Homo sapiens: one gene and its partners. The protein of the gene in region 4 purifies or fractionates together with the protein of the main gene of each other region. This does not show direct contact. Each region holds a gene or a part of one and is shown on either strand. Other genes may lie near its edges.

Evidence for each region.
Region 1: the proteins of GNAT2 (region 4) and VPS13A purify together in Homo sapiens (affinity purification with mass spectrometry, with the first as the bait; one large-scale study listed by BioGRID). This does not show direct contact.
Region 2: the proteins of GNAT2 (region 4) and UNC119B purify together in Homo sapiens (affinity purification with mass spectrometry; 2 studies listed by BioGRID and IntAct, with this or other methods). This does not show direct contact.
Region 3: the proteins of GNAT2 (region 4) and OCIAD1 purify together in Homo sapiens (affinity purification with mass spectrometry; 3 studies listed by BioGRID and IntAct, with this or other methods). This does not show direct contact.

Annotation. Positions count from the first base shown.
Region 1 is NC_000009.12:77,176,082-77,180,333, reverse strand, and holds the start of VPS13A (intermembrane lipid transfer protein VPS13A), read right to left. Parts: upstream 2,801-4,252; 5' UTR 2,630-2,800; coding exon 2,530-2,629; exon of another isoform or gene 2,417-2,529; intron 1-2,416. UniProt on the Homo sapiens protein: Mediates the transfer of lipids between membranes at organelle contact sites. Binds phospholipids. Required for the formation or stabilization of ER-mitochondria contact sites which enable transfer of lipids between the ER and mitochondria.
Region 2 is NC_000012.12:120,716,958-120,720,457, reverse strand, and holds part of UNC119B (protein unc-119 homolog B), read right to left. Parts: coding exon 3,416-3,500; intron 539-3,415; coding exon 426-538; 3' UTR 1-425. UniProt on the Homo sapiens protein: Myristoyl-binding protein that acts as a cargo adapter: specifically binds the myristoyl moiety of a subset of N-terminally myristoylated proteins and is required for their localization.
Region 3 is NC_000004.12:48,837,588-48,841,087, reverse strand, and holds part of OCIAD1 (OCIA domain-containing protein 1), read right to left. Parts: intron 1-3,500. UniProt on the Homo sapiens protein: Maintains stem cell potency. Increases STAT3 phosphorylation and controls ERK phosphorylation. May act as a scaffold, increasing STAT3 recruitment onto endosomes. Involved in integrin-mediated cancer cell adhesion and colony formation in ovarian cancer.
Region 4 is NC_000001.11:109,609,617-109,613,116, reverse strand, and holds part of GNAT2 (guanine nucleotide-binding protein G(t) subunit alpha-2), read left to right. Parts: intron 1-32; exon of another isoform or gene 33-193; 5' UTR 194-246; coding exon 247-364; intron 365-2,609; coding exon 2,610-2,652; intron 2,653-2,935; coding exon 2,936-3,077; intron 3,078-3,500. UniProt on the Homo sapiens protein: Guanine nucleotide-binding proteins (G proteins) are involved as modulators or transducers in various transmembrane signaling systems.

The DNA of each region.
Region 1 (4,252 bases), on a different chromosome or scaffold from region 4:
CAAAACTCAACCATAAGAAAACAAACACTCTGGAAAAAGAGTTTGGCTGTTCCTCAAAAGGTTACACAAAGTCAGCATATGACCCAGCAATTCCACTTCTAGGTATATATCCAAGAGAATTTAAAACATACATCCACAAAAAAACTTGTACATGAATGTTCAGTGGCATTATTCATAATATCCAAAAGGTGGATGTTTAGGAATAATCTAAACATCCAGCAACTGGTGAGTATAGATAAATAAATTGTGGTCTATGAATATAATGGAATATTATTCAACCCTAAGAGCAAATGAAATAGTCATACATCCTTCAACATGGAGGAACCTTGAAAATACATTAGGTTAAAGAAGCCAGAAACAAAAGGCCACATATCATATAATTCCATTTAAATGAAATGTCCAGAATTACCAAATCCATAAAGACAGAAAGATTAGTGGTTGCCAGAGGTGGAGTAGTGAGAAGGGAGGAAATTGGGAGTCACTCCTAATGGACATACGATTTAATTTTGGGGTGCTGAAATATTCCGGAATGAGAGAGTGGTGATGGTTGTACAATTTTGTGACTATACTAAAAAACACTGAATTGTACATTTTAAAAGAGTGAAATTTATGGTATATGAAATAAATCTCAAAAAAAAAAAAAAAACGTACAACCCAATTTAAAACCACTCTTAGGTATTTATCCAAGAGAAATAACAATTATGTTCACACAAACACCCGTACGTGAATGTTTATGACGGCTTTATTTATAACCTCCAAAAACTGAAATATTCTTCAACCAGCAAACAGATAAATACTTACAGTCAGGCGGGCGCAGTGGCTCACGCCTGTAATCCCAGCACTTTGGGAGGCAGAGGCAGGCGGATTACTTGAGGTCAGGAGTTTGAGACCAGCCTGGCCAACATTGCAAAACCCCCTCTCTACTAAAAATTAGCCGGGCGTGGTGGCGGGGTGAGATCAACTGCAAAGGAGCAGCTGAGAGAATTCGGGAGGCTTGATGAACCTTTTATGTGCCATTATTGTGGTGGTGCATACATGCCTCTTAGCATTTGTCAAGACAGAACTGTATCACAAGAGTGAATTTTACTGCATGTAAATTTTAAACAAATAAATAAGTTGATTAATCACACTCTAGACAAACCTCCACCCTGAATGTGGAAGCAAGACTCCACTACAGATCAAAGTTCACCTCAAGTATTCTTAAGGCTTCCTTCTGAGGTACATGGGAGACAAATTTTATTTTCACTTTGCAACTAAGAAGCAGCATAAACAGACTGCAAGTTTCTTGTACTAATCAAACAGGCTGAGCAGCTATCACTATATCCCTAGCTTTTGTAGTCCACTCACTCTCCATCATGATACTAGGTCCCCACGGTAGTAACATTCTTTAAAATCAAACTAAACTACCTGTTTACATTATCTCATAAACGAGAAGAGTCAAGGTAAGTATTTTAGAAGAAGACTGGAAGTGTGTGCACAGACAAGAATAAATTACTTTAAATATATATTTAAACACACACACTTCACACACAAAATTAACCCTCACTTTGGCCTGGGAAATTCATTTCACAAAGGAGTCTAATTTCTAGCGGGTGTTTAAAATAAACAAGCGCATAATGCAAAAACAGATGGAAACACTAAAAATGAGGCTCTCACTAAGGCAGAATACCACACTAAACGGACACAAGGAAAGCTCGGTCCTTCACCACCTAGGCAGCGTAGGGCCCTGTTCAGCCCGGTCTTTTGCAGGTCTGAGACGTTGCACCGCACGCCCTGGTTTTTCTTTAAAATTCGGCAATTCACTCTGACCCACATATCCTAAAGTCTTGAAAATGTTACACATTCCTAGGTCAGGCTGTTAACTGCAACCACACAAGCAACTGTTTGAGTTACTTTGCACTTGAGTTTCCTTTTTGTTATCCGCCGAACCCAGGCGAGAGAGAGCCGGCGTCCGGGTCCTAGGGCCGGAAGGGGGAGAGCAGAAAGCACCACGGGTGAAGCCAGGAATTGAGGCTGGGGAAGCAAGGAAGCGGGCGTCCCCGGTCACAGCGCCCTGCCTTCACGTGCGAGGCAGCATGCAACACGCGGGGGATTTCTGGGGCCTTCGTCATAAACCCAGGGGGGCAAAGGACAGGGATGGGACCCAGCCCAGGAAGGCGTCGTCTCGCCTCCTCGCCCCGCGCGGCTAAAGCCGGACCGTGCGGGGCCAGGGGTAGAGAACGGCCCCTCGCCGGGACTTGAACGCCAGACCCACGGAGCCCACGGCAAGTCCGCTCCGCTCGGAAAATATAGACCTTTTCATCCCGCACTCATGACCCTCTCCTTTCCCCCAAAATATAAACAACTCGAGGGCGGAGGCCAGGGAACTGCCGCCCGGCTTTACGTAACTTGACCCACAGGCGGGCGGCGGCAGGTGGCTGCACCCGGCGAGCAAGGTGCTCGAAGCCCCGAGAACGCAGGACGCCGCTCGGGCAGCGAGACGGCCGGGAAGCACGAGAGGCCGGGGAGCGGCGGCGGCGGCCTCCTTACCTTTCCAGATGCCCAGAGAGAGCTGGGACGTGTCCAAGTCCACCACATAGTCCCCCAAGAACCGGTTCAACACGTCCACGACCACCGACTCGAAAACCATGTTCCTCAGCCGTGGTGGGCACGGCAGCCGGCCCGTGCGCTCCTCCTCCCGCCGCCTTCCCCACGCCCCTCCCTCGAGGTAATTCGGTTCACCGGCTCCGGGGCGGCTTCAGCTGCGGCGCCCCCGCTGGCCCAACGCGCAGCCCTAGCGAGCCCAGCGAGAGACGGAGGCGGTCGCTCTCACGACGCGTGCGCAAGTCTGCGCGCGGCTGGAGGCGGAGCGCGGCGCAGACCTGGGCGCGCAGCCCTGAGAGGGAGGAAAGGCGGCTGCGCGGCCGCGGCTCTGGAGGGTGCCCTTTTCGCGCCGAGCCCGGCTCCTCTTTCCTGTCGGCCCCGCCTCCTCCCCATCGCCTGGCAACGGGACACCGGTCTGGAGCTACCGGATTTTTTCCGACCCCGCCCCCTCCTGCAGATCAGCGTCCCCAGCGGCCCCCCAGGGCGGGGCGGTTACGCCCGACGGGAACGCCCCTCCCCCTAGAAGGTGGTGGCCGCTTCCACGCGTATGACAGGGCTCGCCCCTGAGTAAGGGTGGGCGGATCCCAGCCCCGTCGCCAGAAGCTTCAAGGGGGCTGTCCCAGGGAGCATCTCCCCTCATCATTACAGGGTGGGAGGGTCCAGCCAGCCTGGGTGTCTTGGTGCCTGTAACCTCCCCGCCTGGTCCTCCGACCGCCTGGCTCTCAGGAGGAGTTAACTTCCTGCTGCGAGTCGAGGATGGAGTTACATAGTCCCTGCCCTGCATCTGAGATGAGCACCCATTTTTGGTCAAGTCATTTATACGGAGCTGTCTTTCATTCCAAAGAGTAACACGCTTCCCTGCAGATAAGAGTTGGAGTCAGCCGGTCTGGAAACTGCTGAACACCCTCCAAGAAATACTGGGAGTGCTGGACCCTTGACCCCTATGCCTCCACCGAACCACTGACCTAAAATAAATTACAATTACAGATCTTTCGACCTGTTTGGTCTTACTTAGAAGTAATCCCAAAGGCCTGAGGTCACAGAGATGCTAAATGTGAGGTTTAGAGAACTGTAATTAATCATCTGCAGGACCGAAAAAGTGTACATTGAGCGTTTTCTCTTTACACGTTAAATGAATAATGATGGATTTCTATTAATTCCTGTGTCATTTTACTACTTTTTGTGCATAGTCACCGACTTTTCAAAATTAAATGTTTAGGGTGTGCCTTTGCAAGTAGAATGCCTGACAAAAACTGTAAGTTTTTACCTGAGTTTATGAATGTTTTTCATATAATTTTATATTTGAAGGACCTTTATGAGGTCTCCAACCTCCTAGTCTTAAATATAATGAAGCTGAAGTGTTAGGGATGTGTGCAAGGTCATACAACCAATGTTCTGTGGAAGAACTGGAACTTGGCCCTTCTGATTGGCTACCACCCCACCTGCTTCTCTCTCATTCAGCTAACAGTCTGCTTCAGAATACCTGCACGGAGAAACGAATAGAGGCTAAAATGCCTAGGAAGGGGAAGAGCTCTACATAATGAGGCATTTTGCCATTGCACTATTAATAAGAAGCCAGATACACAGTAGCTGCAAAATTCCGCTGTTATATCTAGCGCTGCAAATTCAAAGTTACAAGAATTTCCAGAACTCCAAAAATCCATCTTAA
Region 2 (3,500 bases), on a different chromosome or scaffold from region 4:
GAGGCCTACCTTTCAGCTTCCCACAGCACCCAGGAACCTTAAGAGCTGCTGACCTGCTGGTGGGCCTGGCCAGAGCCTTCTCACCAGGCACAGCTATGCCTGGTCGTCAAGACAACCAACAGGCAGCCAGAACTACGGAAAATAAACTTTTTTATCTGGATTCCAGGACCCTTATCCTAACCTTTTACTTTACTATAGTACCTCTGCAACCTACGGGGCAGGAAAAAAAGGGAAGAAAAAATACTGGGGAAGAAAACACAGCACTGTTTGGCAGCTCCTTTGGCGCGCAGGAAACTGCCACCCCAGCCTTGGCTTCCTGGGGCCAGGTTCCAGATGTGTGTTGACAAACTGCAGCTTCGATCATCTCCGTGTGCCAGGATCTTGTGGCCGCGGCAAAGCACCTCCCCTATCTACTCTTGCAGCACTTACTGGCCTCCATTATAGGCATAATCAGCCTTGTTGTGCATTATCAGCTTGTTGTCAACAAAGTAGAAGCTGTCAGAGCGGGTCTCGTAAGGATTTTCAATCATTAGACGAACTGCAAGTCAGGCAAAGGGGGAAGAAAAAAGCAAAGAATTATGTTTGAGTCTGCCCCACAGGGTAGGTGGGAGAAAACTTTGCATCCCCTCCAAAATAAGCCAGCGCTTCAGAGTATACTCTGCCAGAATAACGATGAGGTCAGAACAGAGGGAGGCAGCCCTTGACAGCTGGGGAGACCACAGAGGCCCCCCAGCTGAACATGATCTCCATTTCAACATAAGGATGCAATCAACTCTCCACCATGGCCTCCTCTGTCATCTCCAGCCTGGATTCTTCAGCCAAGATACCAGGGAAATGTGCTCACCCCTCTTCCCAACATGGACCCCACCAACCTATTTACTCAGTGCTCTCAGCTGACCAAAGCCAGCCCTGGCCTCTGGTCAGTGGCCCACCTCTAGACATTCCACTCCAAATTCAGAAATCTGAGCCTCACTGTGCCCACCTCCACACACAACCCTGACAACCCAAGGAAACCTAGATTGGAATGAGTGCAAGGAACACAGGGCAGGGAGCCTTCTCCGGAGACCTTCTGGGTATTAACTCGCAAATGATTCAGCAATAGGTCTGCCTGTCTTGGGATCTAAAGTAAAGTCTTGTTTGTTCAGGCAATTGCCCAGACCTCTTTAACCATACTGGAGAGTAAAGATAATTAACAGTCACTACCTCTGATCAGTTTTGAGTTAATGATTACATGCCATTTTGAGTCTTTAACCATACTGGAGAATAAAGATAATACTACCTCTGATCAGTTTTGAGTTAATGATTACATGCCATTTGGAGTCCCCTGGAGGAAATGCTGTTGCTCACCACAGTTCTCAAAAAGTGAAACTGATTTTTTAAAGTTCTTTGAACCCACCAATGCCAAAACTACTCGGTTTATATGCATAATATTGCCCTCCAGGCTGATTTGGCTTCATGGGTAAAACTTATAACACTATACATCATCTTTTCTTGCAAGTATCTACATATTCTAGCCAGCTTGGGAAGAGGGGTTCAAGTCAGAACCAGATGCTGTCGTCAACACCCTGCCCCACATCTCAGCAATCCTCATTTTACCTGGGAACTGTACTGCCACACGATTAAAGGTTATCTGGTTTTCAGAATATGACAATTCTTAAGGACCTGGGATTCTGAGAGGACCAATCAGTGATGCCAGCAAGGCAACTACAGGCATCACTAGTCACAGGATTCTATTCACACCCTCATAAATGACTTGAATTTTCCCTAACTATTCACAAAGGATGCGAACCTGAGGTGGCTAGGCCAAAGTTGCAGAAACTGACAAGGGCTGTTCTTTCTCTCTCGTTTGGTCCCCATCTTCCCTTGCCGAGGCTACACGGCAGCAGCCTTCTCCCTCTGGTGCCCTCCCCAGGTCTAGGCCACTCTTCCTCAAACAGTATTTCCACCTTCTCACTCCTGCCCCAAAATCTACAACAGCCCCATTCCTTCCTGCTGGATCTATCTCAACACTTTATCCAATCAACTCTCTATCCTGCAGGGAATGGAAAAGAAGTCCTCTGGCCTTGATTCTATTTAGCCTGCAGTTTCACATCTAGCTCTGATTAAGAAAAAAGTGAAGGGCCAATGACTAAAACACAATGGAAAACCATGACTAACAGTGCACAGGAGAGGTGCTTTATCTGATCAGCGTCCCAGGGATGGTCACAGGCCTCCTTTTATCTCCCTTAGGCACTGTCTTCCCACAGGAGGCATCTAAAAGGATGGCCTGTATTATTAAAACCTTCAGACCGGCCGGGCGCAGTGGCTCAAGCCTGTAATTCCAGCACTTTGGGAGGCCGAAGCAGGCGGATCACGAGGTCAGGAGATTGGGACTATCCTGGCTAACACGGTGAAACCCCGTCTCTACTAAAAATACAAAAAATTAGCCGGGCATGGTGGTGGGCACCTGTAGTCTCAGCTACTCAGGAGGCTGAGGCAGAATGGCATGAACCCAGGAGGCAGAGCTTGCAGTGAGCCGAGATTGCGCCACTGCACTCCAGCCTGGGTGACAAGATCAAGACTCCGTCTCAAAAAGAAAAAAAAAAAAAACCTTCAGACTGAGCACAGTGGCTCACGCCTGTAATCCCCAGTACTTTGGGAGGATGAGGCAGGTGGATCACAGGGTCAGGAGTTCGAGACCAGCCTGACCAACATGGTGAAACTCTGTCTCTACAAAAAATACAAAAAATTAGCCGGGCATGGTGGCAGGTGCCTATAATCCCAGCTACTCGAGAGGCTGAGGCAGGAGAATCACTTGAACCCAGGAGACGGAGGATGCACTGAGCCAAGACTGCGCCACTGCACTCCAGCCTGGGCAATAGGGCAAGACTCCGTCTCAAAAAAAAAAGAAAAAAACAAAAGGGCCGGGGGCAGTGGCTCACACCTGTAATCCCAGCATTGTGGGAGGCCGAGGAGAGTGGATCATGAGGTCAAGTGTTCGAGACCAGCCTGACCAACATGGTGAAATCCCGTCTCTACTGAAAATACAAAAACTAGCCAAGTGTGGTGTAATCCCAGCTACTCAGGAGGCTGAGGCAGGAGAATCGCTTGAACCTGGGAGGCAGAGGTTACAGTGAGCCGAGATCGCGCTGCTGCACTCCAGCCTGGGCAACAGACAGAGCAAGACTCTGTCTCAGGGGAAAAAAACAAAAACAAAAACAAACAAACCCTTCATTGCTCCCATACGGGCCGAGTCAGAGTTTAGAACAGGAGCCAGGAGCAATAGGAAATGAGAAGCCTGAGGTCAAATGACTAGATACGCATCATGTCAGCACTGCCACGAGACAATGCCAGGGCGCTGGACCAGATGGGTTTCAAGGTTTGTTCCTTGTAGCCCTCAGAATCTAGAGTGCTGTAAGGGTCAGGGGATACATACTGACATCCTCCGAAAGCTGGGGAAACTCATAGATATGTTCACAAGTGTTCCTACTGCTGGGGATGCAGAAGCCAAAATCAAAGTC
Region 3 (3,500 bases), on a different chromosome or scaffold from region 4:
CATGTAATTTCACACGTAATGAAATATTCTTTTCCTTTGATTTCTTAACCATTTTATCTTATTTTATGTTTTTAGACAAAGTCTCACTCTATCACCAAGGCTGGAATGCAGTGGTACAATCTCATCTCACTGCAGCCTCAACCTGCCGGCTCAGATGATCCTCCTGCTTCAGCCTCCCAAGTGGTTGGGACTACAGGCATGCACCGCCATGCCTGGCTAATTTTTTGTCTTTTTTCTTTTTTTTTTTTTTTTTTGTAGAGATGAGGTTTCGCCAAGTTGCCCAGGCTGGTCTCGATCTCCTTGGTTCAAGTAATCAGCCCACCTCAGCCTCCCAAAGTGCTGGGATTACAGGCGTGAGCCACTGCACCCAGCCTCTTAACCATTTAAAAATGTAAAAACAATTCTTAGCTCATGCATACAAAAACAGATTTGGTCCATGGGCTAGTTTGTTCAACTCTGGTCTAAACCATATATGGACAATTTAAGAACCAAAGTAATTAAGACATTTGAATTATTACAGATTTCATGATTAAAATCCATCACTTTGGAATAGGGCATTAACTTTGCCATCACACACAAATTGCACAAACGCTAAGGTCTGAATTCATGCTATCCTACTTACTAACAGATTTTACCTTTGCTGGAAATATGGTTTCTTTAATGTTGGCTAGTTAGAATGCCTTCATGCATTATCATTTATCATTTAAGGTTTTGCAAAGGACAAATCCCTTTTAATTACAGCACCAGTACAATTTGCAATCATTTTTCTCCAGCTTGACTCAAGGATTGCAACATGAAGCACTGAAGAATCATATAAGAATAAAAGGCAATGAGTTAGCTGGCCATTTCTACAATGGATAATGCTTTCCCCATTTAATGCAGAGTAATAGTCTGTTCGAGGAGATTCTAGTACTAGTTCTGCCATTCACCACAATGTCTTTGCATAGCTTCTTCTCATGCTATAAAGGAATAATGGATTAGACCTAAGGTCTCATTCCAACTCAGGTATTCTACTTTATGTCACAGAAAAAGACAATGGTAAGACTGAAAGAGGCTTCAGAGATTATCTAGTCCTCATTCCAATCTGAGTACACTAATATCCAGAAAAGACAAGTCATTTGCTCAAAGCAACACAGCTGGTTAGTTTGTGGTAATGCTGAGATCAGAACCCAAGTCTCCTGACTCCCTAGTCAGTGGCCTTTTCCACTACAGTATGTAATATCTATTTTGTTAAATAATCTGTCTCTATAGGCAAATCAGTAATACTGCTGACCAAAACCTAGTGCACATTATTACCACAGTCCCAAACTATATTCAATATATACAAGAATCCCTACAATTATTTGAACTCTTCTCCCCTCACAGTAACAAAAAGCTACTCTATATTCCTAACTGTAGTCAATAAAAATTTTTATTTCATTAATCATAATAACACTAATAGCTATTTAATAAAGATAGCCAACACTTAATTAAATTGCATTAATCCCTATAATAATTTCATGAGCTAGGCAGTTATCCCCATTTTATAGATAAGAAAAGTATAGCACAGACCTCAGGAACTTGTCCAAAATCTCACAGCTACTGTGTGTGGAGCTGGGATTTGAATCCAGCCAATCAGGCCTCAGAGTCCATACTCTTTTTTTTTTTTTTTTGAGATGAAGTCTCGCTTTGTCACCCAGGCTGGAGTGCAATGTCACAATCCTGACTCAATGCAACCTCTGCCTCCCGAGTTCAAGCCATTCTCCTGCCTCAGCCTCCCAAGAAGCTGGGACTACAGGCATGTGCCACCACACCTGGCTAATTTTTGTATTTTTAGTAGAGACAGGGTTTCACCATGTTAGCCAGGCTGGTCTTGAACTCTTGACCTCAAGTGATCCACCCACCTCGGCCTCTCAAAATGCTGGGATTACAGGTGTGAGCCACCATGCCTGGCCCATACTCTTATCACTCTTATACTGTATCATTTGAAAACTAGTAGTACACATATATGAAATATTATTCATAGACTCCAGCTGATACAAATATGAACTGATACATCTTTTTAGTAATTCTGGAGTTTGAGAACTATTTTAACATGAATATGCAATAAACTGACCCTATATGCACAGGGTCTTCACTACCTGTGTGTTTGGGCACAGACATAGTGATTTTAGGTCAGTGCATAGGGTCACGATTTTAAGCACCTAGAAATAAGATGCCTTCATAGTTATATTTCAGATTAATGGAATGTAGGTCAGTATAGAAACATAGTTATCTTAAGGAAAGAGAATGGTCCCTAGATCAACAAGTCTAATTTTAGAAGAGGATAAGTATTTTAACAGACCTAAAAAATGTATAAAAAATTACCTTAGTAAGTGCTTTTTTATAAATTCGTAAATGCTTTTATCACCTTTTTCTAATCCAAGGTGATACTCTCCAAAGTAACAGATGCCATTATTTGTTTACATAAATGTCACATACAGCATAGACTATCTAATTCGAAAGTACAAATGTTAAAGTACAAAATTTCCTATGTATGATTATCATCCTTCTGATAATTATACGTTGAACTTCCTATCACCTGGTTACAACCAAGCTTCTACATTTCAATGTTTGATGCTATAATATGCAACAACACCTTGGTTATCTGTTTTGAGAGTGAAATGCTACCTATTAATACAGTAATTTTTTGGCTGCTGTAATTTCTCAGTAATGTAGATATGGTATAAAATTAACAAGCTGTCTTTCAGCCTGTCCTTATCACATGCTTTTTGTCTTTTTTTTTTTTTTTGAGATGGAGTCTCGCTCTGTCGCCCAGGCTGGAGTGCAGTGGCACGATCTTGGCTTGCTGCAACCTCTGCCTCCCGGGTTCAAGCGATTCTCCTGTCTCAGCCTCTCGAGTAGCTGGAATTACAGGCACCTGCCACCATGCTCAGCTAATTTTTGTATTCTTAGTAGAGACGGGGTTTCACCATATAGGTCAGGCTGGTCTCGAACTCCTGACCTCAGGTGATCTGCCTGCCTCAGCCTCCCAAAGTGCTGGGATTACAGGTGTGAGCCACCAAGCCCAGCCGCTTTTTGTCTTTTCAACCTGTGATTTATCTGTTTTAATGCACAGAAATCACTTAGCTTTGTACTGTTCATATACCACATGTCCCACTATTAAGAGTCTGGTATACACGGGCATCCTGACATTGTTCACTACCCTTTAATGTACTTTTGGCATAAACCTGTCACAGCTATTTAGATTGTTAAACACCTGCAGCAGCATACATTTATCAGCCAGAAATAAATCTGGACACCTTAGCATCTATTTAACCGTTAGCCCAACACTACAATAATCCCAAATCCCCTCTATCACACTTGCCTTTTTCTTAATCCTGTGTCATCAAGACTTAAAAATAGATCATTTTATCCTATCTACTCTATATAATCTTCAAAGATTTAAAAAAAAAAAAAAAAAAAAGAACTGTTGCTGGAGTATACAGCCAAGTTCTCTAAGAAATTCTTCCCATTCTGGC
Region 4 (3,500 bases):
TAGATATAAAGGCTACAATCCCTAGACTAAGAAGTAGGTCTCCAGTTGAAGTAGGGAGTCTCAGTCAATGTAGGCAGAGTACAAGACCCTACAGCCTGCTCTCTCACCTGCCATCGTACAGACCAGCTTTTAGGGGAGCCAAGTTGGGATACTCAATCCCAACTTTTTTCCTTCTCTTCCATCTCACATACAGGAAACCTTACGAGAGAGGATTAGGGGCCTGAAAAAGCTGACAAGACGGCAAATATGGGAAGTGGAGCCAGTGCTGAGGACAAAGAACTGGCCAAGAGGTCCAAGGAGCTAGAAAAGAAGCTGCAGGAGGATGCTGATAAGGAAGCCAAGACTGTCAAGCTGCTACTGCTGGGTGAGTGAGATGGGAAGATGAGCCAGAGAAGGCAGGGGTCCTTCCTACTTTCCTGAAGGGTTGGTGGGTTCTACCTCACCCCATGGGAAGGAAGGGTGGCAGGTCATTTTTCCTCTCCTCTACACAGTCTGGCTAGGGGATCAGGAGATCTAGAGCTGAGTTAATATGGGGCCTAAACAGCCACCCCAAGGGGATCCAGAATGCCAAGGCTATTCCAGAGTTTTTCTACTCTTGAGCGAGGAATAGTGCAAGGGCCACCATGAACCCACCCATTTCCAAATCTAACCAAACCTAACACATCCTTTTGGCTTCAAGGACCCTGGACTTGCAGACTGTACCCAATCTGCAGAGAACTCTAAGCCAAGAAATCAGAAGAGAACAGGACCTTCCCTCACCAACAGGCTCACAAGTCCCACCATACAGTCAGTGCCAACAGTACCAGAGATAGTCCCACTGGTTTTTGCCAAGTATAGTGGTTCCTTCTTGCTTTCAGTAAAAACTTTGGAAGTAGGGGGCTCTGAGGAAGGAGGAATGGTGTCTTTATGTACAGCAGTCCCTTCCTGGCTCTCTATTCAATAGCTGCCTGCAAAGCTCCTGCCAGATGGAAGGTTCATCAACTTGATGAGCTCCTAAGCAGATCACTGGTCTGTGCTGAGAAAATAAAAGCACCTCAATTTGTCAGGGAAATTGATCACAGCTGTAAATAAAACCAAGACAAGAACATTTGAGACACGTGGCTTAGGAAAACAAACCACTGGTACCACAGAAGTAGGGTAGCTGGAGCAGGTAGGGTCTACGTAGCAGAAGATTAGATGCCTGAGCTGGGTTTCCAAGCCCCCATAAGGGATCTGGGAGCTGACGCACTAGGCTAAGGCACCTTCTTTTCCCCCAGCTGATCTGTGGCACAGTCGTAAGGACACACTAAAGGAGCATATCTTTGTAAGCTGGACCAGACTCTAAGGAGCCCAGGAGGTTACGCAGGGGGAAACAGAGATGGTGGGGCCACTGAGAGATCTTTTAAGCCTAAGCAGATTTCTTCTACATTCAGGATAAGCTGCTTAGAGGGAACAAGCACAAGCGAAATAGGAGGAGTTCGAGGCATTAGGGTAGTATAAACTCAGTACTAGAAGGTATGAGTTTTTGATGGAGAGAGCAGAGTGTGAATGAGGACATTAGGACACATTAGTCAATAAAGGGAACCCACTTAGCCCCATCCAAGACCAGGTTGAGCAACATGGTGAAAACCTGCCTCTACGGAGGGGCGGGGGGAAATGGCCGGATGCAGTGGCGCACGCCTGTAATCCCAGCGCTTTGGGAGGCCAAGATGGGTGGATCTACCTGAGGTCAGGAGTTTGAGACCAGCCTGGCCAACATAGTGAAACCCCATTTCTACTAAAAATACAAAAATTAGTCAGGCATGGTGGCATGCGCCTGTAGAGTCCCAGCTACTCAGGAGGCTGAGGCAGAAGAATTGCTTAAAACCCAGGAGGCAGAGGTTGCAGTGAGCCAAGATAGCACCACTGCACTCCAGCCTGGGAGACAGAGCAAGACTGTCTCAAAAAAAAAAAAAAAAATGTAGTCGGGCATGATGTCGCACACCTGGAATCCCAACTACTCAGGAGACTGAGGTGGGAGGATCACTTGAGCCTGGGAAGTCAAGGCTGCAGTAAGCCGAGATTGTGCCATTACACTCCAGCCTGGGCTACAAACCTGAGACCCTGTCTCAAAAAAAAAAAAGGGAACCAGCAAGGTGATGAAAATATAGTTATTTTGGTGAAATGATCCAGCTCTCTCCAATCCTACCCCAAGATCACTCTCCTGAGTCAAAAATAGGCAGAGAGGAGAAATGTTAAAGGACTCCCCCTGAATCTGTTAGTGGTTTTCAACAGGAAGATTTTGACTGCCAGTGGTCATTTGGAAATGTCTGGAGACACTTTTGGTTGTCATAACTAGGGAAGTGGGATGCTATTGGCCTCTAGTGGGTAGAGGCCAGGAATGCTGCTGAACATCCTACCATGCATGAGACAGCCCAAACTAAATAGTACTGAAGTTAAGAAACTGCTCTAAATCCAGGTTGAATGGCCTGAGCTCAAGCCTGCCAGAAATTGAGGGCAGCAGTCATCCCTATGTATTCTCCCCTAACAAGACCCCCAAGCAAGCAGTGGCTCTGACTTCTCCCAGGCCATCTCCTGGAAGGCTGAGGAGAACTGGTGGAAATCGAAAGCATAAGCATTTTTCCTTCCAGGTGCTGGGGAGTCAGGAAAGAGCACCATCGTCAAACAGATGAAGTGAGTAGAAACAAAGCCCCAAAAGACAAGATAGGGTGAAGAAGTCAGTACAGCCAGTGGAGGTATTCAAAGTGAAAGGCTCTTTAGCCTCAAGGAGCCCAGGTATAAAGGATCTGATTCCAATGCCCCTCATCTGTACCCCTTGTCCCTCACCCTCCACTTTGAGAAAGCAGTAGCAACAGAGAGATAGGATTCTTATGATCCTTTAAATACCCCCAAATTCCTAATCCCTTAGGTCTGGTTACTCAGGTCCAGCTAAAGACAGAGTGTCTGCCCCTTGCAGGATCATTCACCAGGATGGCTATTCACCAGAAGAATGCCTGGAGTTCAAGGCTATCATCTATGGAAATGTGCTGCAGTCCATCCTGGCTATCATCCGGGCCATGACCACACTGGGCATCGATTATGCTGAACCAAGCTGTGCGGTATGTGATTACTATTATGTGGTTAAGGGTGGAAGCAGAAAGGCTAGCAAGAAGAAACATACCAGAGGCCAACAAACTATATGGAAAGATGGGTAAGAAAAATAGTAACTAAAATCCCACCTGCTGGGTGGGATCTCACTGCTAGGTGTACTGTGTATACCATCTCAAGGCCCTTTACCCATCTACGCAGTAAGACCTTAAGGTAGACGGTACCTTTCTAATTAGCCTCATTTTACACATGGAAAAACTGAAGTTCAGAGAAGTTAATTAACTGCCCAAGGTCATGTAGATAAATAGCAGAGACTGCATTTGCATTGGGCTGCTTGACTACAAAGCTGAATATTTTTCATAATACACCACAATTATGCAGTCCTGGAGAAGTAAGCAACATCCACCCTTATTTTTACTGGGACAGGGTCTTCC